Homo sapiens: one gene and its partners. The protein of the gene in region 3 purifies or fractionates together with the protein of the main gene of each other region. This does not show direct contact. Each region holds a gene or a part of one and is shown on either strand. Other genes may lie near its edges. The genes, in order: IL32, OGFR and PRKCE.

Region 1 (11,083 bases), on a different chromosome or scaffold from region 3:
GGCCCCCCAAAGCGACCCCCGTGTCCGAAACCTGCGATTGTCAGTGCGAGCTCAACCAGGCCGCAGGACGTTGGCCTGCTCCCATCCCGCTGCTCCTCTTGCCCCTGCTGGTGGGGGGTGTAGCCTCCCGCTGATGGGGGGAGCCATCCAGACCGAACAGCGCCCTCCACGGCCGAGTCCCCCGCCGCTGGACCTGGTCGGGGGTTGTGAGGCGCTGCGGAGGCCCCTTGTCTGTTCCCACGGACGGGGGCTCGGGCGCGGACTAAGCAGGGGGGATCTCCCGCGCAGGGGCGGCGGCGGCGGGGACCGGTCGCCTGGCGCTGGGCTCAGTCTCCTCAGGGTCTGAGACCCCGGCGCTGCCACCGGAACCCGCCTTCAGGGGCGCACGCGCGCTGGGACCATGCGTCGGTCGTCGCCCCCGTCGTTCCCTCCCGGCTGCCGCCAGGGGGCGGTCGGACCCCGCCTCCCGAGCCCGGGGAGGGGCGGGGAGGACAAGGGGCGGGCCCGCGGCCTCACCCGGAGGGACGGCAGCCCCGGTCGCGCGCTGGCCCCGCAGGACCTTCCTTTTCCAGGAAGAGCCAGCTTTTCTCGGAGCGCAGTCCTGGGACTCTCCGCAGCCCCGCCCCGCCTGGCCACTGCGTCTGGCATTCCTGGGTCGTTAGAGGACAGGCCTGACTGCGAAGCTGTGCCTTGCCCCTCTCCCACCCGCAGTTTCTCACCCCGTTCTGCTCCCACAAGGCCCCCCTACAGTCACTGCCACACTGGTGGGGACCTGGGACCCAGACCCGGAACCAGCCCAGATATCACCCCTGAGGACCCATGCGCCACGTCCTGGGTGGTGGAATCAGTGGCTGGAGGGACGACCCTTGCTCTCCAGGCTGTTAACCTTTTCCGTTGCTCCCCCGCCACCCACCTCCTCCTCCCCAGGCCACCCAACTTGGGCACCTCCCTGGGCCCAGAACTGCCTTCCATTCAATGGGGAACCCTTCTATCCCCAAGAACCCCTTCCCTGCTTGCACCCTGGAGAGAACAGCTTGACTCCCATCAACTCAACGCTGGTGGAAAGACAGGGACCGAACCCTGGCTCAGGCCTGGTCATTGCCTCCTCAGCACTCCCTCCTGGGAGGCCTTAGCTCTAGAGTGAGGGGTGGGTGGAACCTGGGGGCACCTCGTTCACCCTGTCCCCACTCCCCACAGTTTTAGGATCTAAATGATTGCCTCTGGAACTATTCTTCTAGACTATCCCACATCAGAATCACTGGGAAATTTAAGTTTGCAGATCCCACACTCACCCTGAATCCTCACTCAGGGTGGGGTCAGGAATCTGCATTTTAACTAGTCGCGGGGATTGTGGGGGGCAGTAGCTGGCTGTTTCGTGGCATTTCTGTGGCTCTGCAGTGTTCCTCCACCCCAGGACCAATATGTTCAGGCCACACCGATGGCCTGAACCCCATGGGTAGAGTCACTTAGGGGCCACTTCCTAAGTTGCTGTCCAGCCTCAGTGACCCCCTAGTGCTTCCTGGAGCTGAGGCTGTGGGCGGCTGTCCCAGCAACCATGCGAGGGGTTGCCCCAGTTGCTCATACAAACAGATCAGCATGAGGACAGAAGGCAGGAGACTTTGGTCAGTTACCTGGGAATTCTGGGCTGCCAGGAAACGATTTGGGCCTCTGTCAGTTTCTTTTCCATGTATGAGGAGGGGGAAATTTGTATATTAGAAACTTATTCATCCCACTCAGGACAATAAAAACGAATGTACAAAAAGCCCTTCCATTCTTCTGAGCATTGATGGACCTGGGGAGAAGTGTGGTGGCAGGAACTGGACTGACCTGAATCTCCCTGCTTCGCAGAAGGAATCCATGGTTGATGGGGAATCTAAGAAGGAAGAGTGGGCCCGGGCGTGGTGGCTCATGCCTTAATCCCAGCATTTTGCGAGGCCCAGGCAGACGGATCATTTGAGGTCAGGAATTTGAGACCAGCCTGGCCAACACTGAAATCCCATCTCCACTAAAAATAGAAAAAAAATTAGCCAGGCATGGTGGTGCATGTCTGTTATCCCAGCTGCTAAGGAGGCTGGGACAGGATAATCACTTGAACCCGGGAGAGGGAGGTTGCAGTGAGCCAAGATCTCACGATTGCACTCCAGCCTGGCCAAAAGAGCGAGACTCCGTCTCAAAAATAAAAATAAAAATAATAATAATAAGAAGAAAGAAGAGTGGGAGGACGAAGTAGAGAGGAATCGAAAAGTTGGTTATGGGGCACCCGGAGGACGGACGGCCACTGTGGAATTGAGACTGCCTCATGGCTCCATGTAGACTTCCAGAGCCTTTAAAATTTTATGACTGCTACACAAAAATGTCATGTCAAAGTGATTATTTTTATTTTTTAAGTGGTATCGTTTAAAAATGGCATGGTCTCATAATCAAAATGTAAAACTTTTGTGCTTCAAAGGACATCATCCAGAAAGTTGGAAAGAGGCTGGGCACAGTGGCTCACGCCTATAATCCGAATAGTTTGGGAGGCCAAAGTGGGAGGATGGCTTGATCGCAGGGTTTCAAGACCAGCCTGGGCAACATAGTGAGACCTTGTCTCTACAAAATAATCAAAAAATTAGCCGGGCATGGTGGCAACCCGTGTCTGTATTCCCAGCTACTTGGAAGGCGAAGAGGAGAGAATCACCTGAAGCCGGGAAGTCTTGGCAACAATGAGCCATGATCACGCCACTGCACTCCACCCTGGGCAACAGGTGTGTCTCAAAAAAATAAAAATAAAAATAAAATTGGCTGGGCACGGTTGCTTATGCCTGTAATCCCGCATTTCGGGAGGCTGATGCAGACGTTTGAGAGGCAGATGTCACTTGAGTTTGAGAGTTTTAGACCAACTGGCCAACATGGTGAAACCCTGTCTCTACTAAAAATACAAAAATTAGCCAGGCGTGGTGGCGCATGCCTGTAATCCCAGCTACTTGAGAGGCTGAGGCAGGAAAATCGCTTGAACCCAGAAGTTGGAGGTTGCAGTGAGCCGAGATCGTGCCTCTGCACACCAGCCTGGGAGACCAAGCGAGATTGCATCAAATAAAAAAAAAAAAGAAACACAAAAATTGTCACATGGTACCATTTCAGCGCACTAAGATGGCTAGAATTAAAAAGACACAGAGCATAACAAATGTATCTGGGGATGTGGAGAAACAGGAACCCCCGGGCACTGCTGCTGGGAATGTAAAATGACAGACAATTTGAAACATAGTCTGGCTGTTCCTCAGAAGGATAAAAACACATTTGCCATGTAACCCAGCTATTCTTCTCCTTCATACGTATCCAAGAGAAGTGAAAACATAAGTCTGCACAGAAACTTTTGCGTGAATGTTCACAGCAGCGTTATTCAGAATAGCAAAAAAGGGGAAAGAACCCCAACTTCCTTTGAGGGGTGAATGGAGAAACCAAATGTGGTCTATCCACACAGTAGAATATCATTCAGCCAGAAGAAGGAATGAAGGACTGATCCGTGTTACAACACAGATGAACCTCAAGAACAGCATGTTCCGTGAAAGAAGCTAGACACAGAAGATCACGTAGTGTATAATTCTACTTATAAGAAATCTCTGGGAGAGATGCATCCATTGAGAGAGAAAGTAGATAAGCCCAGACGCAGTGGCTCATGCCAGTAATCTCAGCATTTTGGGAGGCCAAGGCGGGCAGATCACTTGAGGTCAGGAGTTCGAGACTCCTTGGCCAACATGGTGAAATCCCATCTCTCCTAAAAATACAGAAATTAGGCCAGGCTGAGTGGCAGAACAAGACTCCACCTCAAAAAAAAAAAAAAAAAAAATTGTCACGTGATACCATTTCAGCCCATTGGGATGGCTGGAATTGAAAAGACACAGAGAATAACAAGTATTGCTGAGGTTGTAGAGACACGGGAACCCTCGCACACTGCTGCTGGGAATGTAAAATGACAGACATTTTGAAAAATAGTCTGGCTGTTCCTCAAAAGGATAAAAACACATTTACCATGTAACCCAGCTATTCTTCTGCTTCATACATATGAAGTGAAAACATACGTCTGCACAGAAACTTGTACGTGAATGTTCATAGCAGCATTATTCGGAATTAGCCAAAAAGTGGAAAGAACCCAAATGTCCTTCGAGGGGTGAATGGAGAAACCAAATGTGGTCTATCCACACAGTAGAATATTATTCAGCCAGAAAAAGGAATGAAGGAATAATGCGTGTTACAACACGGATGAACCTCAAGAATAGCATGTTCAGTGAAAGAAGCTAGACACAGAAGATCACCTAGTGTATAATTCTACTTATAGGAAATGTCTGGGAGAGAGGCATCCATTGAGAGAGAAAGTAGATGAGGCCAGACACAGTGGCTCATGCCTGTAATCCCAGCACTTTGGGAGGCCAAGGCGGGCAGATCACTTGAGGTCAGGAGTTCGAGACTCCTTCATCAACATGGTGAAACCCCGTCTCTACTAAAAATACAAAAATTAGCTGGGTGTGGTGGCACGTGCCTGTAATCCCAGCTACTCGGGAGGCTGAGTCAGGAGAATTGCTTGAACCCAGGAGGCAGAGGTTGCAGTGAGCCGAGATCGTGCCACTGCCCTTCAGCCTAGACAACAGAGCGAGACTCTAAGAAAAAAAAAGAAAAAGAAAAAGTAGATGAGTGGTTATCCAGGGAAATGAGGACTGGCAGTGATGTCTCAGAAGGGCAGAATTTCTCTTAGAGGTGATAAAAATGTTCTAAAATGGGTTGTGGTGATAGCTGCACAGTTCTGTGCTTTGAATTGTACAGCTCAATGAGTGAATTGCATTGCCTGTAAATTGCATCACCATAAAGCTATAAAAACAGGGTACATACAGTCTGGGTGGATCCCAAGATGTCTTCAGATGGTGGCCTTTGAGAGTCATGAGGGGCTAGGGTTGGAGCTGAAGCCTAAAGCATGACTTTTAGCTGGTGCAGGAGTGGCTTCCTTCTGTCTCCCACTACAATTCAGAGGATACTCAGGGAAAGATCTGGACATCCTGTATGTGGAAAGGCGGTTGCGCACAGTGGAATGGACTCCTAAGTGGCAGGCAGGTGACAACCGTTGTCTACTTCACCCAAGGGAAGATTTCTCCATGGAGCGTGTTTTATAGGTTCTGTCTCTCCGAGTCCCCTTTGAGAATATAATGGGATACATTGCATCCATGCTGAATTCCTAAGCCCCAGGACCTCAGAATATGCCCTTATTTGGAAACAGGGTCTTTATGGAGGTACTTAAGGTACAATGAGGTCACTGGGGTGGATCCTACTTCTTTTTTTTTTTTTTCCGAGGGGAATTTTCATTGTTGTCCCCCAGACTGGAGTGCAGTGGCACCATCTCAGCTCACTGCAACATTCGCCTCCCGGGTTCAAGTGATTCTCCTGCCTCAGCCTCCCGAGTAGCTGGGAATACAGGTGCCGGCCACCACGCAAGGCTAATTTTTGTATTTTTAGTAGAGACAAGGTTTCACCATGTTGGCCAGGCTGGTCTAGAACTCCTGACCTTAGGTGATCTGCCCGCCTCGGCCTCCCAAAGTGTTGGGATTACAGGCGTGACCCACTGCGCCCGGCCTAGGGTGGACCCTATTTCAATATGACTGGTGTCCTTTGGAAAGGGGAAAGGGGGACAGTCACACCCAGGCAGAACGTGATGAAGATGAAGATGGCCATCTACAAGGGCAGGAGAAACCTGAACAGAATCCCAGCTCCGGGCCCTCAGAAGGACCCCACGCTGCCCACATTGACCTTGGACCTCCAGCCTGCAGATCGTGAGGGAAGAGACGTCTTCGACTTAGGGCCCCTTGTCGTGGTACTTCCTTAGTTTGGCCCCAGGAAACCATCCCAAAGGCAAGGGCGTGGTTGTGCTCAGCTGGGGGAAGGGGGCTGGGGGCCGTGAGGAGGAGGTGGGAGGCCCAGCCAGGCTGGAGGGTCAGAACCCGTGGAGCTAGAAGAGCCCGTAGGGGAGCCCCAAGATTGCTGAGACCAGTGACCTTCGGCCCCAGATGGCCTTGCCTTGGCCCAGAAGGGTCAGAAGGACCTGGTCAGCCAAGCTCAGACAGCCGGCAGGATGCCTTCCACCCTGCAGAGGGTCCTATCTTGTCCCACAGGTAGATCTACATCACCACTAGCCACCCCTCCAACGTGCACAGGCCCCTGCCCTCACGGCGCCCCTCTTAGGTCCGGCAGTTCCTGCCTCCTTCTGATCCAGAAGTTTCTCTGGCCTCTGGAGCCGGGGCACACCTCATGCAAGGACAGGGTCCAAATTCCTTTGTCCTTGGATCCCACTTGGCTGACGTCACCTTCCTGTACTCAGGGAGTTTCCCCAGCCAGCTGTCCCGAGTCTGGACTTTCCCTCTGCCCCTCCCCACTCTCAGGCTGGTGGGGTGGGGAAAGCAGCCCATTCCTGGGCTCAGAGACTCCCACCCCAGCTCAGAGGGAGCAGGGGCCCAGCCAGGGACGGACCCTCATTCCTCCCAGGGACCCCAGACCTCTGTCTCTCTCGGGTAAGTCTCCATCTCTGTCTGTCTCTGTCTCTGTCTCTGTCTCTGTCTGTTTTTCACGCACTCAGCAAGGCCTCCTGCCCTGAGAGAGGCTCCGCCCACTACCCCCCACTTTCCCCATAAAACCAGCTGAGTATTTGTGCCAGGAAGACTGCGTGCAGAAGGTGACTGTCTCAGTGGAGCTGGGTCATCTCAGGTGGGGAGTTGGGGTCCCCGAAGGTGAGGACCCTCTGGGGAGGAGGGTGCTTCTCTGAGACACTTTCTTTTCCTCACACCTGTTCCTCGCCAGCAGGCCTTGGCTCCTTGAACTTTTGGCCGCCATGTGCTTCCCGAAGGTGAGTGAGAGGCTGCGTGTGCTTTTGTGGGCATGTCTGAAAACAGACCGTAAGGGTGCGGGTGCCCTCAGTATTTCCCGAGGTGCCTGTGTGTCAGGGCTCAGTCAGGGGCACCCAGCGGCAGGAGGATAGTGATGGGGTGAGAGTGTCAGTGGAGGCGCTGGAGGTCATATGTGTCGGGGGCGCTGGAGAACGGCAGGGGTGTGGATGAGAGGGAGCACCTGTCCCAGGAGCCCTTCACAGCCCGGAAAGCCCGGGGCAGGGGTGGGGCAGGGCTCTGCTGGAAACGACTCGGAGAATGCTTCTCTCAGAGGCCGGCTCAGCTGGGTGGGCCCAAGAGCAAGGCCTGTGTGGGTCCTGGTGTCTCTTCCTCCTTTCCTGGGTTCCCTCCGACCTCCCATCCTCTACCACTGCCCCACCGCAAATGCTAGGCCCACCACACCCTCCAGGGAGCTCTTCGGCCTGTGACAATAGGGGTTTCCATGATGTGGCCTGGCTCAGGTTCAGGACAGTGACCCGGAGGACACATGGCTCCCGCATGTCGGCACGGTGCTGCTTTCACCCTGGTTCCTGGGAAATCAGGCTAGCGGGATGGGACCATCGCTGCCTGAAAGTGTGCAGACAGCTGCCCTGCCCAGAATATGTCCCCAGGCCCTGCGCACTCTGTGGGTGACTGTCACCACTCTATAGTGGGGGAAACCAGGCATGTCACCCCCGAGACTAGGCCCTTGACGTGGGGGCTCAGCGGGGATTCTGTGGGGTGCCTCTGGCCTCTGTGGATGCAGCCACGTGTCTGCAGGCAGGAATGGCCCGGGACCTGTGGGTCTGCATGTTGGCAGTCGGGAAGAGTGGCAGGTTGTAGGGTGGACCTACCTGGCACCCCAAATATTAATCAGCTCATCAGAGAGGAATGGCTGCTGTTACCTTCTCAATTGTCATGTCCCTAAACATTTTTTCCTTGGCCAACTCTCACCTGGGACCATAGTGGTTGTGGGAAACCCAGCTGAGCCAGCCTGCTCCAGGACAGTGTCCATCCTCCCGTGTGTGTACATGGGGGGGTGTGTGTGTGCAGGGAGGACACCCCGGCCCACGCAGGCCCTGCTCTTGTGAGGAGGGGTCACCTAGGCCCACGCAGGCCCTGCTCTTGTGAGGAGGGGTCACCTAGGCCCACGCAGGCCCTGCTCTTGTGAGGAGGGGTCACCTAGGCCCACGCAGGCCCTGCTCTTGTGAGGAGGGGTCACCTAGGCCCACGCAGGCCCTGCTCTTGTGAGGAGGGGTCACCTAGGCCCATGCTGGCCCTGCTCTTGGGCCTGCCCAGCTGAGCCGGCTCCTGAGAGAAGCGCTTTCTGAGTCGTTTCGAGGACAGCCCTGGCCGGTCTTTCCAGGCTGTGAGGGGCTCCTGGGACTGCTGTCTCCTCTTATCCTGTACCTCTGCCATGTGTCTCTGTGTGTGTGTGTGTGTGTGTGTGTGTGTGTGTGTGTGTATAAATTATCCTGGAGGAAAGGTTAAGGTGACACATGGAGACTGAGTGTCACCGTTATTTCCGCAGGTCCTCTCTGATGACATGAAGAAGCTGAAGGCCCGAATGGTAATGCTCCTCCCTACTTCTGCTCAGGGGTTGGGGGCCTGGGTCTCAGCGTGTGACACTGAGGACACTGTGGGACACCTGGGACCCTGGAGGGACAAGGATCCGGCCCTTTGGTGCCAACTCTGCCTCTCTTCACAGCACCAGGCCATAGAAAGATTTTATGATAAAATGCAAAATGCAGAATCAGGACGTGGACAGGTGGGTGGATTTCCCCTCAGGCACCAGGTCACATGTCCCCGCCCCCAGGCACTCCACCCTGTGTGGGGCTCAGGGTGAGAAGGATGAAGAGGGACCCACAGGCTCCCTCACCCCTTACCGTGGGCAAATGCTTGCACCTGGGTGGCAGTGAGTGGGCGGGTGGGGGATCTGGACGCCCGGGGAGACTGAGGGAGGCATCCAAGCCCCAGGGCTCCTTGAGGAAACAACAGGGGTGCCAGACGTGGCCCGGGCCCCTGGCTGGGCCCAGTTCGGGGTGTGTGGGAGCTGAGGACTCACTGGGCTTGAGGACTGACTGATGTGGGGTGCAGAGGAGGCTTGGGCCTGGAACCGAGTGCTTTGTTCCTAACAGGTGATGTCGAGCCTGGCAGAGCTGGAGGTGAGCCGTGGCCTCCCCCTCCACCAAGCTTAGTCCCTGGGTCTTAGGCTCCACAGGACACTGGGTCTGGGCCCCGGGTCCCCTTGGGAATCACCTGGACCAGTGGGGGCCACAGTGGGAAGGGGGCAGGCAGGAGCAGCATGAACCCCCTGTGCCCTCCTCTCCCCAGGACGACTTCAAAGAGGGCTACCTGGAGACAGTGGCGGCTTATTATGAGGAGCAGCACCCAGTGAGTATGACACACCCATCTGGGCACCTTGCCTTCCTTCACCTCTGCCCTGTCTTTTCTTTCTTTCTTTCTTTTTGTTTATTTGAGACAGAGTCTCGCTCTGTCGCCCAGGCTGGAGTGCAGTGGCATGATCTTGGCTCACTGCAACCTCCAAATCTCGGGTTTAAGTGATTCTCCTGCCTCAGCCTGACAAGTAGTTGGGACTACAGGCACCCGCCACCACTCCAGGCTGATTTTTTTTGTGTGTGTTTTTAGTAGAGACCAGGTTTCACCATGTTTGCCAGGCTGGTCTTGAACTCCTAACCTTGTGTTCCGTCTGCCTTGGCCTCCCAAAGTGCTGAGATTACAGGCATGAGCCACCGGGCCCAGCCAACCCCTGCCCTGTCTTGATGTGGTGTGGGCAGGGTGTGCCCAGCCCCTGAGCTTGGGGTGGAGGGCTGGGAGTGACAGCCTAGCTGGGACCTGCCCATGGCCTCACTCCTCACACAGTGGCACAGCCCTCAAGGCACGATGAGGGCCCTGACCTGGTGACCAAGCAGACACACCCATCCTGTCACTGCCATGGAGGTGAATGCAGAGGAGGGGGACTCTGGGAAAAGTCCCTCTTGCCCACGGGGCTGTGGTTGGGAAACCAACACCTGTGGGCCTCCGTCTCCCAGGGTCAGGAAAAGGCTGAGAGGCCTGGGTGTGGCCAGGGCCTGGGGCTGACACCCCCACCTACAGACCCTGAATGGTGCTCCCATTCCACAGGAGCTCACTCCTCTACTTGAAAAAGAAAGAGATGGATTACGGTGCCGAGGCAACAGATCCCCTGTCCCGGATGTTGAGGATCCCGCAACCGAGGAGCCTGGGGAGAGCTTTTGTGACAAGGTCATGAGATGGTTCCAGGCCATGCTGCAGCGGCTGCAGACCTGGTGGCACGGGGTTCTGGCCTGGGTGAAGGAGAAGGTGGTGGCCCTGGTCCATGCAGTGCAGGCCCTCTGGAAACAGTTCCAGAGTTTCTGCTGCTCTCTGTCAGAGCTCTTCATGTCCTCTTTCCAGTCCTACGGAGCCCCACGGGGGGACAAGGAGGAGCTGACACCCCAGAAGTGCTCTGAACCCCAATCCTCAAAATGAAGATACTGACACCACCTTTGCCCTCCCCGTCACCGCGCACCCACCCTGACCCCTCCCTCAGCTGTCCTGTGCCCCGCCCTCTCCCGCACACTCAGTCCCCCTGCCTGGCGTTCCTGCCGCAGCTCTGACCTGGTGCTGTCGCCCTGGCATCTTAATAAAACCTGCTTATACTTCCCTGGCAGGGGAGATACCATGATCGCGGAGGTGGGTTTCCCAGGGCAAGGCTGATCTGTTGCCGTATTAGTCCGTTTTCACACAGCTATAAAGAATGCCTGAGACTGGGTGATGTATAAAGAAAAGAAGTTTAACTGACTCACAGTTCCACATGGCTGGGGAAGCCTGAGGAAGCTTACAATCATGGGGGAAGGCGGAAGAGAAGCAAGGCACGTCCTACATGGCAGCAGGAGAAGCAGGGTGGGGGGAACTACCAAACACTTTTGTCCGCGTGTTTGTGTGTTTTTTTTATTTGAGATGGAGTTTCGCTCTTGTCGCCCAGGCTGGAGTGCAATGGGGTGATCTCGGCTCACTGCAACCTCTGTCTCTCTGGTTCAAGTGATTCTCCTGCCTCAGCCTGCTGAGTAGCTGGGGTTACAGGCATGCGCCACCATACCAGGCTAATTTTGTATTTTTAGTACAGATGCGGCTTCACCATGTTGGCCAGGCTGGTCTTGAACTCCTGACCTCAGGTGATC
Region 2 (10,418 bases), on a different chromosome or scaffold from region 3:
TCGTTTCTCAGTTTTTTCATCTTCAGGGAGTTTGGGGAAAGCATCAGAAAAATCCAGCAAAGACAAAGAGAAGAACTCCTCAGACTTGGGGTGCAAAGAAGGCGCAGACAAGCGGAAGCGCAGCCGGGTCACCGACAAAGTCCTGACCGCAAACAGCAACCCTTCCAGTCCCAGTGCTGCCAAGCGGCGCCGCACGTAGACCCTCAGCCCTGGTGGCGGCAGAGAAGCGGGCGAGGCACTGTGGTCGCTGAGGGGGTTGGCTGGGTCTGAGTGCCACCCCCCAGGCCACAGTGATACCATCCCAGTGCCATGAGCCCACACTGCCCGCCCTCAGGCTCTCAGGTGAACGTGGCCGTCAGCGGGGAAACGTGTGTGTCAGTTGGACCATGTGGGACCCTGATGGACCTGAAAGACCAGGATCGGTCCAGCTCAGATATTGAGGGCTCTGAAGCCTAGTTCTGTCTTCTCTGGAGCAGCTGTGGCTTCCCCGTGGCTGCTTGGTGACATGGATTAGCGCTACGTGGGCTGCAGCATTTGGGATCCAGGCTACCTAGAGGGGCATCGGGCCAGGGAAAACCTCGGATTAGCAAGCAATAAAAACATGACCTCACTCTTCCTCAAAGGAGCCCCTGGTCTTCCCTGTGTGACTCAGTTCTTTCCATCTGTTTGTCCCGCTGCAAGCCTCTTTCTGCGCTGACTGTGACATTGGAACGTGGCCTTCCTGTCACCCCCTCCGTGCCACGCACTGAAGGCCACCCCCACCCACCTGGGAAACTAAGAACTGGATATTTTGCCTCATTCACTTGTACTGTAACAATGTATATAATTTGGTTGGTATTTCACTATTTAATTTTTAAGAAGCCTATTTTACTAGTGTTTTATATGAACAAAGTACTGCAGAAGTTAAACCTGTGTTGTATTTTTTCTGAGATGTTTTGCTTTAAGAGATACTTTTTGCTCAGTTTTTATATGCCAGATACAGAGAATTTGTAGCGGTTATTTTTGTATGATCTAGTAACTTGCAAACAGACCAAATGGATGAGAGGCGGGGACCGTGCAGCTGTCGGCTGATGAGGAGGCGGCCGCCCCAGTGCTGATGGAGATGCCACTTTCGTGTGACTGCGAACATTAAAGCACAAAAAAATCCAACCTGGAGTTGTGTGATTTTGATACCAAAGTAAGTTCACTTTTCCTCCAAAAGGAAGTTTTTATTTTTCCAAGATTTATAACTAAAGCATACACTTAGATGACTTATTAACATTCACTTGATACAACATATAAACAAAATAGTAACAGATTCTGAGTGGTTATTTTGTGGACTGTGACAAGCACTTCAAATACAAAATGTTAGGAGGGCAAAACGGTGCGGGCCCTCGTAGGTCAGGCAGGCACCAGTGGGCTCCTTCCTGCTGAAAGCTGCGGCTGTGAGATGAGACCGCTGGCTGGGTCACAGAGTGAAATCCAGCGTTCCGTGTGCGGACGAGGAGACAAGCTGTCCTGGCCAGCCATCGCACCCCAATGTCTTCAGCTTGACGTTGCTTCTCTGCCAGTGGAGCCTCCTCCACCACCTGGGAACATCCCTGGCCATCTGTCCCTGAAGTCCTCCTCACCATGACGCAGATCACAAGGCACCCACTAAAGGGGCAAAGCCAGGAATCCCGTGCCATGTGATCGCCCCGTGTGGCACCTGCCACTCGTCTGCACCAAACGCACTGCCAGTTCTGGGGAAGAACAGCCCAGGGAAGCTGCTGGTCTACGGCCTGCCTGAGCTGTATTCCAAGGGTAGAGCAGCTGCCTGGGGGGACCCTGTGGGTCCCTTTTCTATAGAGCCGGGACAAATCCACAGCCCTGCAGTAACAGCCTGCCACAAAGAGCAGGCATCTGGAGGGCCCCACACACATAGACCAAAGGACTGAGCCCGCCTGGCATTCCTCCACTCACAGCACAAATACTCAGCCCTGCAGCCAGGGAAGGGTGGGGTCTCCCTTTGCTGCCCAAGTGTGCCCCCTTGCCCGTCTGATCTCTCCTGTTAGGTCAGCCTCATTCAGGGCTTTGTGCCAGGTCCTGTCCTGGAGTCTCAGTCCGGGACAGCAGCCTGGCTCTTAGGCAGTCCAGAAGCAGCAGGGCAAAGGGGGGCAAATACTAACACGGGGTGTCACGGGATGGCCAGGAGGAGTCCTGCTCGCCACCCAGGCTCACTGTCCTAAACCTCCATCTGAAACCGCATCTCGGGTGACCTCAGATTGTGCTAGGAAAGCCTAGTTAATAAATCTGCCTCATCTCGATTACTGTAACATTTTGCTGCACTTCCAGGAGAAAGCTAGAGCCCACAGGTTAAGCCCACTGGGCAGGTGAGCAGCGTGCCCCCGCCCCGGGCCTCCCTTCTGGACCAGAGGCTGACTGGTTGAAGTCAGGAGCCACGCAGCCCTTATGGACTCACAGGGGCTTCTGGGCTTCCCTGTGGGGAGGCCCAGTTCATGCTCTGCTGGCAGGTGGGATGACCAGGTCAAATTCACAAGTGTCAGGGCAAGGGCGATGTGGCCTCAAGTCCTGGTAAGCGCTGTACTTACCCTCTCCTGGCCCCAGGGGTCCTGTCTGTAACCTGGGGGCTTTATGTAATGCACACTCCACCATGTCATGTAGAAGGTGCCGACTGAACCCCAATCTGAAAAGGAAAACAGCTGGCATGAGGCTGGCCCGTGCACGGACGCTCACGCGCCTGCTGCTGTAGAGGCGAGACGTGGTACACTGTGCACTCGGGACAAGATCTGAACGGGTCAGAAGCCGCCGCTGATGTTGAGCCTGGAAGCCTCAGCAGCGGCTCTACACCTGGAACACGCAGGGCCCAAGAGCACCTGCTGCCGCAGAGACATTTTCTCTATGGCTGGCAGCTGCGGGTGGGGACTCAGTGAAGGCTGAGAGTGGGAGTGATCTGAACTCCCCCGCCTGCCCACCCAGGGCGACCCAGGGGTGACTGGGAAAGGCAATTGGGCTCCACTGCTCCCCAAATAGCAGCGAATAAATACTGAGCGGCAGGGCACTGGCAGCGAGGCTCCCTGCTTGGCTGGTTGATTGAGGACAGGGCATGCTTGGGCCAAATCAGGAGGCTGCCACTGGTCTTGCCTGGAGAAGATATGAAGGCTGTAATCCAAGCTCCCAGCCACACAAAATTCTGCTGGGCTCCTTAGCTGTGAGCATTGCCTGCTCCAGGCACATCACCCACTGCGTGTGCAGAGACCATTGCCCTTCCTGGGTGCCTGGGAGCTGTGTGTGTGTGTGTGTGTGTGTGTGTGTGTGTGTGTGTGTGTGTGTGAGTATGTGACAGAGAAAGAGAGCCCCTTTCCCCAGCCTCAACAGCAAACCCTTCTGGAATGCCGTGCCACACGGGGCGTCACTGGACTGCAGAGGATGCTCTGAAGAAGCAATTCTGTTGCACAGTCCCCTGCAGCAGCTCCTGCACTTCTTGGATTAGCACGCCCCCGAGATGAGCTCTGCACACACACACACACACACACAACACAAAAGCAACTAAAGAAGCAATTTGGTGTGGTGATATTTGTAAAACAGAAGTTGGGCAATGTCTCTAATACTCTTTTTAGGGAAGTGGTTCTATAGTCCTGCCGACAGTAGGTAGCAGCGGGAATGCTGTCCCCGTAGAACAATGTTGTCAGCACCCAGTATGCTTGTCTTTCTGTTTTCTGGGGCAGTGGAGGGGGCAGCCTGACCACCCAAGTCTCAGATCACCCAAACCCTATACAACCACCCAGCACCCATCAATGTCCCCATCAGAGCCCCCCGACTCCACCTCACAGTCTATTCTGATGCTGCAACCAGATCCCACCTGTAAATCATCTAACAAGGAGGTCAGGCAGCTCACTCAGGCTCCCTGGGAAACCTGCCCTGGCCACTGCACTAAGTTGATTTACAGAAATGTCCAGCGCCCCAGAACTTCGGGGCATCACCACTGTCGTTTCAAGAAAGTGTGATGCATGTCCACAGGTTCCAGCCAGGTGAGACTGCACCTGCTAACAGTGGTCAACAGGTCAGCAAAGATTAGGGCCCAGCACCCAGAGGGTCCTTAACCTGTACTTGTGGCCAGGATTGGAAGACTTGCGTTCACGGCTGTCCCTGGCACACAGTACAAGGAATGTCACCAGTTCCCAGGCCCAGCAGGCCTGCAGGGCTAGGAGATGGCAGTGTCCCCTAGGGGCTGGGCTGGGGCCTTCTCCACCTTTCCACCACCATCATTACAGGGACAACTCTGCGAGGAGCTATCCTCATGGCCAAGTCCAAAATCCAGATTTAGTTTTACCTAAATGTTTTGAAATGAATTGGTATAGCAGTTACAGAAGAAATTTATCTGGAGTGGCCACTCCTGATTTTTATTTCAAGAGGTCACCAACCTTGCCATGTATCTGCCAGCAGATGTCAAAGGTGGATGAGCAAGGGACCCGCGGTGCTGGGAAATGGCAGGTGAAAGTGACTTTGTGTTGCCCCATATCTGCCAGTGCTTAGAGAGAGGGCCCTGAGGAGGCGCTGAACTGGCATCAGCTGTGTTGAACAGTCCCCAGGGTGACCCTCCCGGTGGCCCAGGCTTCGTGTGGTCCTCTCCCCTAAGTGCCTTCTTACAACTGAGAGATGGCGGCAAAGGTGAAGGAAGCCACGGCTTGCCCATGTCATCCTGGTTATATAAGACTCGGCACCCTAGAGAGAAAGACTCCCCTGGTGGCTTTGAAAAGAAAACGGCCGTGCTTTGCACTGCCTATGGAGGGACAGGGGTCCGCCAGCAGCTTCCAGGAGCTGAGTAAGGCCCCCAGCCCGCAGCAGAAGGACAGAGACCCCTACACACCCAGCTTAGGGAGAGAGGCCCCTGTGGACACGTGGCCCCTCCGGGGGTTATCCTCCAAGGGACATTCTTCTGATGGGGACATCCTCTGGGGGGATTTCTCTTGGGGGACAGAAATATTCCTGGAAGAGGGGATTCTCTGCGGGGCAGGCATCCTCCGGGGAGAGAATCCTGCTGGGAGGACATCGTCGGGAAGACATCCTTCCTAGGTACCCGGCTCATCTTCCGGGGAGACCGTCCTCTGGGGGGCGGGCAGGCTTTGGGGACATTTTCGGGAGGGAGGATCTCCTAGGGCGGGCATCCTTGCGAGACGGGGTGGGGCGAATCCTCCCGGGTGGGCATCGTGGGGTGGGGGTGGGCGTTCCGCGAGGGGCATCCTCCCGGGCGGACGTTGGGGGATTCTCGGGGGAGGGAGGGGCGCGGGGCGGGCGTCCCGGGGAGGGAGGGGCGTTGCGCGCGGACGCGGGCGGGGCCTGGGCCGCTCCGTCCCCTCCCCCCGCCCGCCCCCCGCGCTTCCTCTGCTTTCGGTTTCGCTTCCGCCTCCAGCGCGAGCCCCGCCGCCGCCGAGCATGGACGACCCCGACTGCGACTCCACCTGGGAGGAGGACGAGGAGGATGCGGAGGACGCGGAGGACGAGGACTGCGAGGACGGCGAGGCCGCCGGCGCGAGGGACGCGGACGCAGGGGACGAGGACGAGGAGTCGGAGGAGCCGCGGGCGGCGCGGCCCAGCTCGTTCCAGGTGCGGCCCCGCGGCGCGGAAGAGGCCTGGGGTCCCCGGCGCCCCCCGCCCGGCTGCGTGGACGGGAGACCCCCCCATCCCGGGCGGAGACACCTGGAGCCTCCTGGAGCTCCCGCAGCCCCGGGGACCCCCCCCCAGACCGGCCGACCCCCAGCCCCAGGGCCCGGCGGGGAAGTGCGGGGGCCGCGCGTGGGTGACAGCGGAGCTGAGCCTCCCGGGCCCCATCGTGTGTGGGCGCCGTTCCCCCCGGGGGTGCCTCGGGCGCGTCCCGCCCCCAGCCGCCGTGGCCGCCCCTGATGGAACCCCTCCCGCCTCGGGCCCGCGCCTCGGCCTCCTGGCGGCCCCTGCGCAGGCCCCGCGGCCTGGGGCTGGGGCTGGGGCTGGGGCTGGGGCTGGGGCCCGGGCCGGGTCTGGCCTGGGAGGCTTCGCGTCTGCACCTGCGGGAGCCCGGGGCGGGCCGACGGGGCCTCCGCTTGTTACTTTTGTTACCGCCGGGCGCCTGTCATCGCCGGGGTTACTTTTGTTGCCGCGCTGGGAACGCCACACTGTCGCAGTCCGGCCCCCCTGTCGGGGAGCTGGGATTGATCTGGGAGCGGCCTTCCAGCTGAGCTGCCCGGGTTGCGGAGGGCCGGGAAGTGCATGGAACTCGACGGCTCCGCATGGATTCTCCCCTTGGCACCCAGCACTGTTTGCGTTTGCGCCTGGCCATGGTGGAGCGGGCAGTGAGAGAGCACGGAGGGGCTCCGCCCTGTCGCCGGGAGGGCAGCGGCCAGGCAGGCTGGGCAGGGGGGTGGGGTCTGGCTCTGTCCCACAGGACGGTGTGACCCCTGGGTGGGCTCTTGACGGGCTTTCCTCACTGGAGTTCCTCAGGCCGCTCTCCTGAAGCGGTGCTCAGAGGCCCTGACCATCCTGCCAGGCGCCCGTGACCCCTGACCTCTTCCCTCTGCCTCCTGCTGTGGCTTCTGTCCACAAGCCCCTCCCCTTCCCCTTTGGACCCCTCAGGCCTCCCCAGCTGCCTGCGCTGGACCCTGGCGGGGCTGTTTCACTTTTTCCTGGGCAGTGTCATGTATGCACCTGTGGGCTGACTGTGTGGCCACATCCAGTCAGGACCCAGCCTCCAGAACTGACCCAGGGAGGCTCCCGCTGGCCCCAGGAAGGAGAAGTAGAAACTGATGATCAGGCGGGGCGAGAGAACCACACCAGCGGCCCTGTTGAGAAATCAGGCCGAGAGGTCGGTGGCGGTGGCTCAGGCCTGTAATCCCAGCACTTTCGGAGGCCTGGGCAGTCGGATCACCAGAGGTCAGGAGTCCAAGATTAGCCTGGCCAACATGGTGAAACTGTTGTCTCTACTAAAAATACAACATTAGCCAGGCGTGATGGGCACCTGTAATCCCAGTTCCTCCAGAGATTGAAGCAGGAGAATCGCTTAAACCTGGGAGGTGGAGGTTGCAGTGAGTGGAGATTGCCTGGGAGGTGGAGGTTGCAGTGAGTGGAGATTGCCTGGGAGGTGGAGATTGCATGAAGCTCCATCTCGAGGGGAAAAAAATAAGAAAGAAAAATCAGGCAGAGAGGCAACGCCAGGTCCCAGCTGGAGCTCAGCGGGGAGCCAGGGGATACAGTGGCTGACCGGGCCTCCTAACCCCCCTTCTAGCACTCCCCCAGGATCCTGGGTCCCAATTGTTGCCCTGGACAAATACGCCCATTCCTGCCCTACCCACCGAGTGAGGCTCAGCCCCAGGCCCCCCACCCTCATCACAAGGTCAGGGCTGTGTCCCACCATCCTCATCACTAGGTACTTCCGGCCCTTTGCTCAGCCCCATGATGCTTGGCCTGCAGAGATGGGGGCTGAAGGGCTTGGGGCATCAAGGGGACCTGACATCTTGCTGAGAAGCCATCACTAGACAGGGCTGGAGGCTGGAGACTCAGGGCCTGCCCTCACCGTGGCCAGTGAGGCGTGGGGTTGGGCAGGGAAGGGGCATTCATTCATTAGACCCTGCCAGAAGCACCTGGGTCCCCTTCTGGGGCTACAGGTGGTGAGGCCACTGCCCCCAAGAACACAGCCTGGTGACTTTAGTGTACAAAGCAGGGGGAGTCTCCAGGGGCACAGAACAGAGGCTAAAGCCAGGGTGGAGGTGGCCAGCAGGCCTAGGAGGAGGAGAGGGTCAGGGCCACACCCCAGGGGAGGTGCATGTCAGCCAGGGGCCACCCTAAGGTGGAAGCCAGGAGTCCCAAAGGGGCCTAGAGAAGGAGCAGCCCCCCACCTGGCTACCGCAGCCCTCTCTGGTTCTGTGCAGGGTATTGGGATGCGTTACTGAGGCCCAAATCTGCCCCACTGGGAACCCCCAAAAAAGAGCCAGGGCAGGAGAATGAGAGGGAGGAGCCATGAAACCCCCGCCCTTTAAAGACAGCTCTGTGGCAGCTGGCCCAGGCCCTGCAGCCCTCACCACGTTGGGACTCACTTGGGGGTCTCCCATGGGGGTCCTAATCCCATCTCTTTTCTTCCCAGTCCAGAATGACAGGGTCCAGAAACTGGCGAGCCACGAGGGACATGTGTAGGTATCGGCACAACTATCCGGTACGTACCTGCCCCTGCCCCGGGACACAGAACCCTCCCGCCAGCTGCTCTTCTCAGGCAGAATGTCCCAGGTTCTACTGGAAGGCTGGCCTGGCTTGCTGTGCCAGGGCCACAGTTCTGGGCAGGACCCTGCCTGGGGCACAGCCTGGTATAGATTCAGAGCCCTGCCCTTCCCCTCTCGCGGGAGACCGGGGGCATCCCCCTACTTTTCTGAGCTTCAGCACACCGTCGCCTTGCAAACATGGCCATAGTGCCAGCCTCGTGATGCACACGTGTGGGGTCCGTGATACCGCCCACACAGCACCCCACCCCCATGCCAGCCCTGTCTCCTGCAGGTTGTCCTCAGCCATTACCCTCCACACCCCTGAATCACGGAAACCCCTGTGCTGCCTTCAGGGTGCTGAGGAGGGGACCTGCCAGGCCTGGCCTGGCTGGCGAAATGGGGAAGGGGGGTCCCTGGGGCTTGGAGGCAGCTGCTGTCCTCTGAATGGCCCCCACCTGCAGAGTGAGGAGCCAGGCGGGCTCTTGGGGTATTGGGCCAGCCTGGAGGTTTGCAGATGCGCCTCCCCGAAAGACACGGAGGGCCCCAGGGCAGCTTGTGTCTGATGGATCCCTGCTGTCCCCTTTCTCTGGCTCTTCAGGATCTGGTGGAACGAGACTGCAATGGGGACACGCCAAACCTGAGTTTCTACAGAAATGAGATCCGCTTCCTGCCCAACGGTAGGTGCCTCACAACCACTGGCAGCCGGCGCTTCCATCCTTGCCTGGCAGGGGTGGTCCACTGGGCCCTGGTTTGGGATGTACCCGGCGATTACCAGGGCCACGGCTTTCAAATAGCCCCACAGTGCCCCCTGGAGGCGGCCAGAGGGACTCCAGGATCCCCGGCTTGGGATCTCCGCAGTGGTGTTTGGGTCGGGGTGGGCTATCTCTGTAAAGAGCCAGAGACTGAATATCTGCAGCTTTTCAGGCCACACAGTCTCTATCAAAACTACTGAACTCCTGCACGACCTCATGAAAGCCACATGTAAACCAACGAGCTAAGGATAGCTTTTATATTTTTAAATGGTTGCAAAAAATTAAAGTAGAGGCCGGGCCTGGTGGCTCACGCTTGTAATCCCAGCACTTTGGGAGGCCAAGGCGGGTGGATCACAAAGTCATGAGTTCGAGACCAGCCTGGCCAATATGGTGAAACCCTGTCTCTACTAAAAATACAAAAAAAATTAGCCAGGTGTGGTAGCGTGCGCCTGTAGTCCCAGCTACTCAGGAGGCTGAGGCAGGAGAATCGCTTGAACTTGGGAGGTGGAGGTTGCAGTGAGCCGAGATCTCGCCACTGCCCTCCAGCCTGGGCAACAGAATGAGACTCTGTCTCAAAAAAAAAAAAAAAAAAAAAAAAAAAAAGAACAGTGTTCTATTACTTTGATATTATAAGAAATTAAAATTTCAGTGTCAATAAAGCTTCACGGGCACGTGCCCACACCTGTTTATGCACGTGCCGGGCTGCAACGTGAAACAGAGACTGGGTGGCTGCACAAAACACTGTCAGGCCCCCATCTCAGGAGACTGTGCCTGCCACATCATGGGACTGGGTTCAGCTGGGGGCTGTGTTTGAGGACAGATTTCTGTGGCTGACGGGCCACGCTTTTGCAGGAGGCACTGAGGCCCCCTCCTGTACAGACAGGTCCTGGTCGAGGACCAGTGGTTCCCCCAGAGGGACCTTCCGGGCTCTCAGTGGGGTTTGCCGCCAGCCAGCAACAAGGGTCCAGGTCACAGATGGCAGCAGGGCAAGGGCTGTGCATCGGAGGAGGGATGGGCAGCCCCACTGAGCCTAGCACCCTGAAGAGCCTCAGGAGATGAGGGCGAGGAATAGCTTGGGGAAGCTGCTGGCAGCACTCTCTCCTTATGTCCCCCACCCACACCCCGTCCTCCTGAGCACGGGCAGGGTGGCTGCCACAGCTGACTTGTCCCCATGGGGCTCCCAGGCTGTTTCATTGAGGACATTCTTCAGAACTGGACGGACAACTATGACCTCCTTGAGGACAATCACTCCTACATCCAGTGGTGAGTTGGGGAGGATGGGGGGATGGGGGGTTGGCGAGGCCACAGGGGGAGGGCCCTCCCAGGCAGGAGCCCTCCCGACGCTGCTTCCTGGCACGGACTGAGCACTCCCTGCCCTTCCTGGAAGCTGGTGTCCACATTACACGGATGGACATTACTGGACATGCAAGGGCCGCTGAGGGAAGGCTCAGGTCTGTCCCCA
Region 3 (10,192 bases):
ATGATCCACCACGTACAGGGGCTCCATAGAGCCCTCACAACTAAACTGGACCCCTCCTAGGATGTTGGGCTTCTTGATAATGGTGTAAAGAAAACTTGCCAGAGTGGCTCCCTGCCTGGAAAGCCACCTCAGATAGTGAGAGGGAGGGCTACCTGCTGGGGACAGGGGGAAGTGGGAGGGTTCCTCCAACAGAAGGGACCCTGTGCTGGATCAGGCACAAGAAACTAGCAATGTGAATCAGAGCAAGGCCCCACTACCTTGGGAGTCCCTGAGACTAGATGAGATGCCAGGTCTGACTCTGCCAAGATGGAGTGCCTATGAGCAAAATAGTTTTACTTCTCTGAAACCCAATTTTCTCACTGGTACCAAAAGGAAAGAAAAGAAAAAAAAAAAGGAAAAGAAAAGAAAGGAAAAGAGAGAGAGATAAAGAAAGATAAGGTGACTTTGAAAAAATCTTCCAAGTCTTTGATTCTGTCCGTGGGTACCTGTCAAGTGTGAGGCCCTGTGATAGGCACCATGGAAAATACAAAATATGATACATTTCTCATGAATCTAAAATTATGCTCTAGTGGAAAAAAGAAGAAAGTTAACTCCATCACTGAGTCTCTATTATTCAGGATTCTGTACACACACAAACCCATAAATATTAGGCATTACACAACACACATGAAAAATGAGAAGAGTTAGTAATTCTTATACTTGTGCAGAAAAAGGGATAGATTCCTATTAAATAGTGGTCTCTGAGGAAAGTTTCGTAGACAAAGAAATATGTGTCCATCTTGAAAGATAAGCAGAATGATTTCCAGATTTTCAGACGATATTTCTTATTCTCCTGAGAGATCAGAAGGATAGGAAAAATTCCACTGGATCAGGGTTCCTCAGTATGGAATGGGCATTGTGTGTGTGTGGGTGCATGTGTATGTGTGTGTAAGAGAGAGATGGGGGACCCTGGGATCAAATAAGTTCGGAAAAGTAGATTAAACAAAGGTAATTTTGTTTTCATTGCAGGTCTCCTCAAGGATGCTAATAAACATACGTGTGTTGAGACTAAGAGAGGTTACGTTTGCAGTGACTCCAACTATGGGTCACAGAGTCCTTTCTTCTTACAGCTGCTCAAGTGATTGGGGTTCTGAGAAATCCTCTCTGGGAAACGGTGTACCAAAGATAATGTAAACTCCATGAGGTCAGGGACTAGTCTAGTTCACCACTGTATCTCCAGCACCTGGCATGGCATCAGATACACGGGAAGGATATAATGAAATATAATAAAAGAAAAGTTTGCCAAATGACTCAATGAATAACTATTGAATTTTAAGTGGAAAAACTGGCATTCAAAATGACATGGAGATGAGAATACACCCAGAAGCAAGGTATCACCTCTCCATGATGTCACCCTCAGGGTCTGGGTTCCACATAAGCCACAGCTAGGAGTTTCAGGTGATGTCTGTCTTTGCCTTCTCAAGAAGCAAAATACTACAAACATCCATAATGATCCTAAAAGACTTTAACTCCTCCCAACCCCTCAAAAAGGATAACAAAATTAGAGCTTCATGAAGAACATTGCTGTTTCTTTACTAAAAACAGGTAACAAATTAGTTAATAATACTCGAGTCAGACTCTACCATGGAGTTATGGATTATCTTTGTTTCTTTACTGCCACCTTCTGGTTCCCAGACACCTATGCGGTAAATTAAAAATGCTGCCTTATATTTGTGTTTCACTATGAAATTTTAAGCATTTGTTCACATCCTTTATTTCAGATGACATTACACAGATTAGAAGAGATTAAGGTGGCCTTTACTCTTTTTCATATGACATGAAAATAACTTAGAAGTTAAGTGATTTGATTAGTGATAGAAAGTTAGGAGCAGAGCAAGGACTAACCACACTTGTTGGTTTTTCCAATGAGCAAACAGTGAGTTTAGCCATTTGGCTTTGTCCAACTCTGGCTGCAAAGAATTCTACAGCTCTCTCATCCCTTCACAAGCACAACCTTGAATGGAAAATCCTGTGCCCTAAAAAAGAAGATGCTGTTCAAATACATCCTGATCTTTTCAAGGGTAAAACCCATCCCACTTTACAAAGTCTTTGAGAGAACAATGTAGAGGGTCTAAAATTGGTATTTTATCTGATAGTCAAGATGCCCCAACATGGCAGCCAGCCAGCTTCTTCCTAACATACCTTGGTCTGGAAGCAGCAGTAGAGTTGGGTAAGGTACGGGTGTTTCCGTGCCAGAGCCAAAATCCTCTTCTCTGTCATTGTGCAGTCCACGTCATCATCCTGAAGGATGACGTCCTTCTTTAAGACCTTCACAGCATATACTTCATCTTTGCCCTTGAGTTCTGCCAACATGACCTGCAATCAATCAATTGCCTCCATCAATCTATGCATGTATGGAATAAAAAGAAGAAGTGTAAGCTAATACCAAATACTTCAAAAACGAATTCTGTTTTTTCTTTAATTTTAAATATTATAACAAGCCTGGTGTGGTGGCATGCACCCAAGATACTTGGGAGGCTGAGGTAGAAGGATCATTTGAGCCCAGGAGTTACAGATCAGCATGGGCAACATAGCAAGACCCCCTCTCAAGATGTATACATAATGTTTAAGAAAACTTCCTATTCTACAATTACTACCGTTCTACAGTTACTACATTCTAATAGTTACTACAATTTATTTATTTTTGATCTCTGGCACAATGCCCAGGCATAGAAAAGAGAAGTTCAATGCACATCTGTTGAATGGTTATTCATATGTTTATATGTGTTTGTCATACTTACAATTACAGTACACCAACTATTTTTACAGTTACAGTACAGTAAAATAATGTAACTATTTTTAACTGAACATTATCTTACAGACATTCTCCATATGGTCTCCATTATTATCACGGTTGCTTATACTCAATTCAAGTAAATATAATTTATTTAACCATTTCCCTCAAATTAGGCACTTCAGTTATATCTAATCATTAAGTATTATATAAGTTGCATTGAGTATTTTTGTACACAATTAAAACAATTTCTCTTGGATTACATTTGTAAGATGGAAACCCTCATAAGTAGATTAAAGGGTGAAGCATTTTGCACATTTCCTATTTTCAGAAAGGATGTGTGATACAATGTGCCACTAGCAATGTAGAAGTGTTGGAGTTTCATGGTGACTTACCAATACTGAGTAGTTTCACTTAAAAAGTATTTTTGCTCACTTAATAGGTGTGAAATGTTACCTTGATGCTATTTTTACTTAAAATGAAACTTTAAAATTAACTGTTTTCTGACTGTATTTCTTTTCGTGTAAATTATTCACGTCTCCTTTGTCTAATTATGCTGCTATCATATTAATTTCTTACAAATTTATACACATGTGATATATAAAGATACTAACCCTTTACTTTCTGTAAAAGGTTTTCTAAGCCTGTTTTATAATTTTCTGTTATTTTATTCTATTGAAAAGAATCATGTATCTTTATGTAGTTGAATCTGTCCTTGTTTGCCTTTATGGTTTCTTTTATAACTCTGAAGCTGGAAACGTGATTCCTTTTCAAGAGAGCTAATTAACAGTTCTATGTTCTTAAAGTGTTCCTATCATTTGATATTTTTGCACTCATTTACCTACAAACGTCACAAGCCTTTCTCTTCTTAAATAAGTAACTCCTAAGTACAGTATTCCAATGTAAGTCATCAAAGCTAAAAAGCAGCCATCAGAAACTTAATGAGGGAATTCATGATGTTAACCTGAAGACTTTTTGTCGCCCGCGTATTTTACAGACTCTTTAAAACTGGCTCAAACTTTGGCTGTGATTTTTCCTAAGAGATAACCTAAATGCTCCAAAGTCATCTAAGTTCCCATTCTGCCTACACTATATGAAAACCTAGAATCTCGGAGTCTTGCTCAAAATTAGACCACATCCTGTTCAGGTCCCAGAGTTATGCCTAACCAGAGGACCTCTTTTTATTTAGTCAGTCTCTAAAGAATGTAATTGCTTCAGCTTTTGCCATTTAAGTAAACCCCAGTTACCTTCCCACCAGAGTGGTATCAGGGTGAGATAGGGGCAGGTGAGACGGCTGGGAACCAGGTGGGATGGGCCAGCTGACTGACCTACAGGCTGCTGCTTTCAAGAGTCCAGGACATGCCAGGGCATGTGATCCCAGGAGCTTCCTGGTCCCCAGAGCAGGACCTCCCAGAACTTCTCAGGGGGTCCCAGAAAGGTGACTCCCAGGCTTAGCTCTGAACAGAACCAGGGAACAATCAGAGATCTCAGGTGAAATGCAAACAGCTTCCTCTGCTCCCTGCCCCTTCATCTTCTTTCTAAATGAACAGGAGTTAATTTTTCCATCTCACCCAGCCATCGGAATGGTGGCTGATCACCTTTAGTGCTTTATTGAGCATACTAAAGGCCACACCCCACACCACTGTGTTCATCTCAGTGGGAACAGGATATGGAGAATGGCACCAAGGGCAGAGGACCCTGATCCGAGGCATGAGATGATTATTCCCATTTTCTTGCCACGTGTAAAGGATAAACAGAACATTTATTACATGCCAGAAAGATCAGTTAAATAACATTTACCTTCCAAAGTAATGCATGCTAAATTTGCTTTAAACCCTAGGTTTGCTGAGGGCAGAGATTCATTCTCAAAGTCTTCATAACAAATTAAAAACAGAATTTCAGCTGATCTCTGAAGGAGGGAAGACATGTATTGACACTACTATTGATTTGGAACACTGAGCATTTAAAACTTTCCAAAGTGCTTTCTCATCTACCATCTCACTTGATTCCTGTCCCCATTCAACAAATGAGAAAAATTGAATTCCAAAGAGATTAAATCACTACTTGAAAGTCTCATATAGCCAATTAATAGCAGAACCAGCGCTCCTATCTACTTGGCCTCAGGTCATTTGCACTTACAAAAAAGGAAAGAAAACCTAACGAGATCAGGCTGAAAGGTTCCTCTCTCAATCTTAGATCAAACAGACGAAACAATGCTAAGGAGTAGAACAAAACCAGCAGTTCCACCCGTGTGTGCCACAGACCTTGCCAAAGCTGCCTTTGCCCAACACCTTGATGAAGTTGAACTCATCCAGGCCCAGGCGCTTGGCCTGGCCTTGCCGGACTTCGCCATTCTCACCGGGGCTCATCAGCTGGCCATCAGGAGACGATGCTGCCCGGTGCTCCTCTCCTCGGTTGTCAAATGACAAGGCTTTCCGAATGTTGTTCTCAAGTTCTTTTATTTCTAGGGCCAAGGGGAACAAGAAATTGCATTAGTGCATACCTCTTAAGCCTGTTACATTAGGACTCAACACTCAGACTTTCCCCTGTAAGCTCTCAGTCCTCTTTCTGGTTCTTCACAACAGATCCAGTGTGACATCCCTTTGTATGTTCCTTCATCTGTTCACCACACTCTTATTGGCACCTAATGCGCAGCAGAGCTTAGGTATGCAAAGAGGAGGAGGACACAGTCCCTTCCCTGCCCTTGTCAACTCCAGATTACACTGGACCTGGCTGTCTCTCTGAAAGCCCCCTTTGGCTAGTAGCCTATTCCACTGTTCTAGGTAAAGCACACAAATCTGGGCCCTCTCTGGAATTCTGCAGAGTCACAGGTATCCTTCAAGTTTCCTCTGAAGATGAGAACAACGAATCAAGAACTGTCATCACAGTAATCACTGGTGATATAATTATTTCAACAACTGAGCCATCAGAACGGTGGCTGATCACTGAAGGTAGAAACCTTCATACCTTCTAAAAACCTTTACTCAGCCTTGTTGCCGGGTTTCTTCTAAATACCCATCTTACACAAGGTTATCTAACAAAATGAGCAATGGGCTTATTATTAACAAAAGAATTGCTTTCCCAAGTGACATGTTGCAAACTTATCTCCAATGGGGCGGGAATTTCTCAGTACAATTTCTCAACTACGAGACAGTCTTGTGCCCCGCTCTAGAGCTTATGACCTGAATTACCTGGGGGAGATAATGCTGGATGATCCTCTGACCTTTTCTATTTGAAGAAGCTTTACTGTTAGCAACTCATTCATCAAGACACGCACTCTTCTGTGTGGAAATGGGCATCTTGAGCAAAATCCGATTTTAAATGATGCTTGTGAATAACTTGGATTATGGAAGGGGAACATAGCCTATTAACCCTTGGGAATGAGAATTAGGCATGAGTGACAGAAAGAGATCTTCAGCTTCTTTTCAGAAGGACAGAGTCCCATAAGGGCTTACTCAAGGAATCCGGAGATCTTTCCTAGATCTGGAGTTTGGCTCCTCTGAGACGTGTTGGGGAGGGTGAAGACGGGGAAAGCTGCTGAGTCTGCAGACACTCCCCTTGCCAGTTCAGCAGTTATCCACCTATCACTTAGCTTGACTAAATAACTTTTAATCTCACAATAGAGCTAAAAGCCTCAGTTATTAAATGAATTTTGGAAGGCAAAACATAGTTGTTTGGGGACAGCAAAGCTTGAAGAAAAGGTTTTTCTATGTGTCTTTACAAGGGAAGAAAAAGAAACTATGTCTTATTTCTGTTCTGTAATAATGTCGCTCAGAGGGACATCTGTGCTAACATCACTACTGGGAAATCCTGGCGTCTGTGTCAAGTGGGATGAACAGAGGCCCTGGGGCCGCTGTATCCTGCCACTGTATCCATCCAATGGCAGAGCTCAGAGCCAGAGAGCATGCAGGGCAGGAGCCAGGCCTACAAACCCTGGTCTCTGAACTCTTACCTGGGGTCTCTTTTCTATATGACCCTGTCTCCCTGAAGCTCCCAAAGGGGATCTCAGCCTCAGAAAGGAACACGTGAAAACCCCCAAACTGGTCTGGGAAAATAGCTACAAGTTCTGCAGCCCCAGAGTACATCAGGCTACTTATGAATGCTTCAAATCTCATTTGGAATGAGGTAGAGTATAAAGACACAGAAAGTTAATTGGAGTAGCACGAAGAGGGACTGAGACCAATTATTCTGTGGCCTCAGGGCTGGTGCATGACCCCCGAAGCTCTTTTATTTACTCCTGGGTAAGAAGGTCTGGGTCATGGTGGTGACCTCCAAGGAAGGTTTGATGGCAGGGTTTCTGAGAGTGTGTCCCTCAGCCAGCATGGGTACAGTCTTGCCCTTACCACTGACTTATCTCCAAACCTTGGGACAGAACTTTTCCACACTCTGACCTCCCACTTCCCACTCACTAACCTGGGGGACAGTAATGAAGCACCAACATAGAGTGGGTATGGGCATAAAATTAGGATAATGAATACAAAAAGGGATATAGAAAAACCAAGGCACCATTGTCAGGCTGTGATGGTTATTCCTCTTCTGCAGATGCATATGTCCCTTACCAGGCATATCTGATAATGGTCACGAGAGCAGGAGGTTTTGCAAGTGTAAGTCCCTCCTCAGCCTCATCATTCTCGGATGGCTGCAGAATTATTATTGTGCAAATTATGTCTGCAGAACTTATTGTCTGAAGCACAGTCGGACAGAAGGAGATATCTGGAGCTGTAGAGGGGAAACAGGCCTAGGACTGGCCTCCTTCCCACTTCTTTTCTCAGTCTCTCCTCTAGCTTCATCTTTCTATCCTCACCCACCCAAAGGCCAGGATAGAAGACATCCTCCCTCACCCAGCCCCAAACTCAAGCTGATCTCAGGTTTTGGGTATGATGATGGGGGAGGGAGTGTCAAACTCAACTCAAGGGAGTGGTGTTGACAGGTCTAGGGCCAGGCAAGAGCTTTAAGAGAGGGAGCTGTACCCTTCTCTCTGCAGTACACTTGGAACCAGGGACAGAGGCAAGGGAAAACAGATAACCATAACATCATACACTCGCTCTCCTCTTACCCTGGCCTGGAAGGAAATTAAGGCAGATATGGCCATGGAGTGCCCAGCCCTCAAGAAGGTCTTGGAGAATGAAAGAACTGTTAAATCAACAGGCAACGGGTGTGTGAAAACCCACCAGGGCTGCTAGCTATTTCAGCTAACAAGCTCACTCTTGGTTAAAGAGGCCTCAGAGCTCCTTGGTCCATCCAATGGCAGAACTCAGAGGTCAGGAAGCAAATCTGAGGGTCTCACCCTGGTCACAAGGGGAGGTGGGTGCTGACTTGGATCGATCTTCCTCAGATGGTGAGCTTCCAGAAGCAGGCTGCGGGGACTCGGCACCAGCAATGAGCTAGAGAGGAGAGAAAGCAGGGACAGAGGCATCAGAAGGGAGGGTTGAGAGTTTTCTGATGTCAAAAGCATCAAGATGCCGTATAAGAGCCATGAGAGTTCCCAGAGCAGCAGGAATTCAGTAGATCTCTGTCCTCTTGCAGCCATCGCCAAAGTAGCCAAAATGAAGTTCGATCCCTCTGTGACGTCTGACCAGAGCAAGAACCACAAAAGGAATTTCAGTGCACCTTCCCTACATTCACAGAAGGATGATGTCTTCCCCTCATTCCAAAGAGCTGAGACAGAGGTACAATGTTTGATCCAACCCCATCCAAAAGGATGAAGTAGTTCGGGTTGTGCGAGGACACCATAAAGGTTAGCAAGCTGGAAAAGTAGTCCAGGTTTACAGGAAGAAATACATCATCTACATTGGACGGGTACAGCAGGAAAAGGCTAATGTTCAACTATCCACGTGGGTATCTACCCCAGCAAGGTGGTTATCACCAGGCTAAAGCTGGACAAAGACTGCAAAGAGATCTTTGAACGGAAAGCCACATCTCACCAAGTAGGAAAAGAGAAGGGCAAATGCAAGGAAAAAACAATTGAGAGGATTCAGGAATAAATCTTACATATAACTTTCATTAAAAACTGCTAAAATAAAAAAAAAAGAGAGTGTTCCTAATACCCAGTGTTACTTGCTGAATTGATATTCTGAAAGCACAGACTCAAGGTTTCATTTGCCAATTTAAGGGAAGAAAACAAGAGACTTCAGTTTGTTCACTTTTAATTCTATCCAAATACAATTGACCTTTCTAAGCAAAGCTCACCCCATGTCTTCCATAACGTCCCCCTCCACCTATCCAAGCAATGCAAGTTATCTCATGCAAAGCAATGTGACACTTGTCTCTAACACCTGTTTGGCACTTATTTATATCTTATTCAGCTTTTTATAGTTAGTATCTTTATGTGTATATTGTGAGGTGTTCTCCACTTAAGTAGACTATAGGATACTTAAAGGTAAGACTCTGTCCGGCACTTTTATTGCCCCTAGTGACTTACACAAAGTAAGAAACATAATAGATGCTCAATAAATATTTTCAGATATATTGATATTTGTTGGTAAATTTTAATAGAACACCTCCAGTGAGGTTTGTTCCTTCGCATAGATGCTGGCATATCCACTTTGAGTCTCCATTAACATCAGTGGTTTAGACTCAAAGATCACAAACACTTCTGCTCCCTTTTAGTACTAACTCTTGGTCTACCTGCTGTGCACACACATCCTTTCTGGATGATGGACTAGTTGCAAGGGGCAACACGAGGGCTACCAAAACACCAGAAAGTCTGATATTCCTGCAAAGAAGCCTTTGAGCTTCAGACCAAGGGCACTCCTCTCCCAACCTCTCATAGTGACTTGAGTTACAACTTGGTTTTTCCCAATTTTGGCATCAGAAGCATCCCAGCAATAAAAATATCAGGACTACAGTCCCTCAGCCTTCCACCCTGCCCCTTCTTGAATTTCTCCATGTTGGCTTCTTACCTGTTGGTTCTTCCAAATCCAAGACAAGGCAGACAATGTCTCACAGCTGGCATGACAACCCATGTAAATATAGCGCAAAGACAGCAGGTACTGAGTTTTCTTTCAAATGTTTCATGACAAAGATTCTGTCTTAATTTACTTCTAGACAAGAATAAAAACCATGTCTCCTGAAAAGGGTTCTCTCTAGAGCTTTTAAATGTGTTTGCATAACGTTGTCATGACAGAGTGTTTGCTCAGCTTGCCTCTTCAGCAGGGCCCTAGCATTCTTGGGTACTGATACTCTGCTTGCAATTCCAGGGCCTTGGGTCAACAAGTGAAGTCTTGTTTCCACCAGTGGAATTTACAAAGCTGAGAAGAGCCACCAAAAGCACAAAGTCTCAGTTATCTCAACCAGAGAGAAGAGAATTTTTTCTGCAACCCTTGCACAACAGCTTTGCTTATTGAGAAAACAGGGTAGGAGAAGTTTAAGAAAATAAGAACCCTTCAACCTTTCCTATACAAGAGAAGCAACATGGAA

The links.
Region 1: the proteins of PRKCE (region 3) and IL32 purify together in Homo sapiens (affinity purification with western blotting; 2 studies listed by BioGRID). This does not show direct contact.
Region 2: the proteins of PRKCE (region 3) and OGFR purify together in Homo sapiens (affinity purification with mass spectrometry; 2 studies listed by BioGRID and IntAct, with this or other methods). This does not show direct contact.

Annotation. Positions count from the first base shown.
Region 1 is NC_000016.10:3,058,965-3,070,047, forward strand, and holds IL32 (interleukin-32), read left to right. Parts: upstream 1-6,675; 5' UTR 6,676-6,723; exon of another isoform or gene 6,724-6,819; 5' UTR 6,820-6,847; coding exon 6,848-6,862; intron 6,863-8,412; coding exon 8,413-8,451; coding exon of another isoform or gene 8,452-8,589; coding exon 8,590-8,649; intron 8,650-9,019; coding exon 9,020-9,046; intron 9,047-9,215; coding exon 9,216-9,275; intron 9,276-10,025; coding exon 10,026-10,391; 3' UTR 10,392-10,566; downstream 10,567-11,083. Other genes in the region: MMP25 (matrix metalloproteinase-25 preproprotein), read left to right, coding at 1-134.
Region 2 is NC_000020.11:62,799,445-62,809,862, forward strand, and holds the start of OGFR (opioid growth factor receptor), read left to right. Parts: upstream 1-5,390; 5' UTR 5,391-5,415; coding exon 5,416-5,586; intron 5,587-6,023; exon of another isoform or gene 6,024-6,143; intron 6,144-8,092; coding exon 8,093-8,161; intron 8,162-8,802; coding exon 8,803-8,881; intron 8,882-10,140; coding exon 10,141-10,219; intron 10,220-10,418. Other genes in the region: MRGBP (MRG/MORF4L-binding protein), read left to right, coding at 12-199. UniProt on the Homo sapiens protein: Receptor for opioid growth factor (OGF), also known as Met-enkephalin. Seems to be involved in growth regulation.
Region 3 is NC_000002.12:46,002,507-46,012,698, reverse strand, and holds part of PRKCE (protein kinase C epsilon type), read right to left. Parts: intron 9,842-10,192; exon of another isoform or gene 9,739-9,841; coding exon of another isoform or gene 9,676-9,738; intron 8,787-9,675; exon of another isoform or gene 8,284-8,786; intron 8,158-8,283; coding exon 8,061-8,157; intron 5,238-8,060; coding exon 5,038-5,237; intron 2,384-5,037; coding exon of another isoform or gene 2,366-2,383; exon of another isoform or gene 2,356-2,365; coding exon 2,182-2,355; intron 2,016-2,181; coding exon of another isoform or gene 1,962-2,015; exon of another isoform or gene 1-1,961.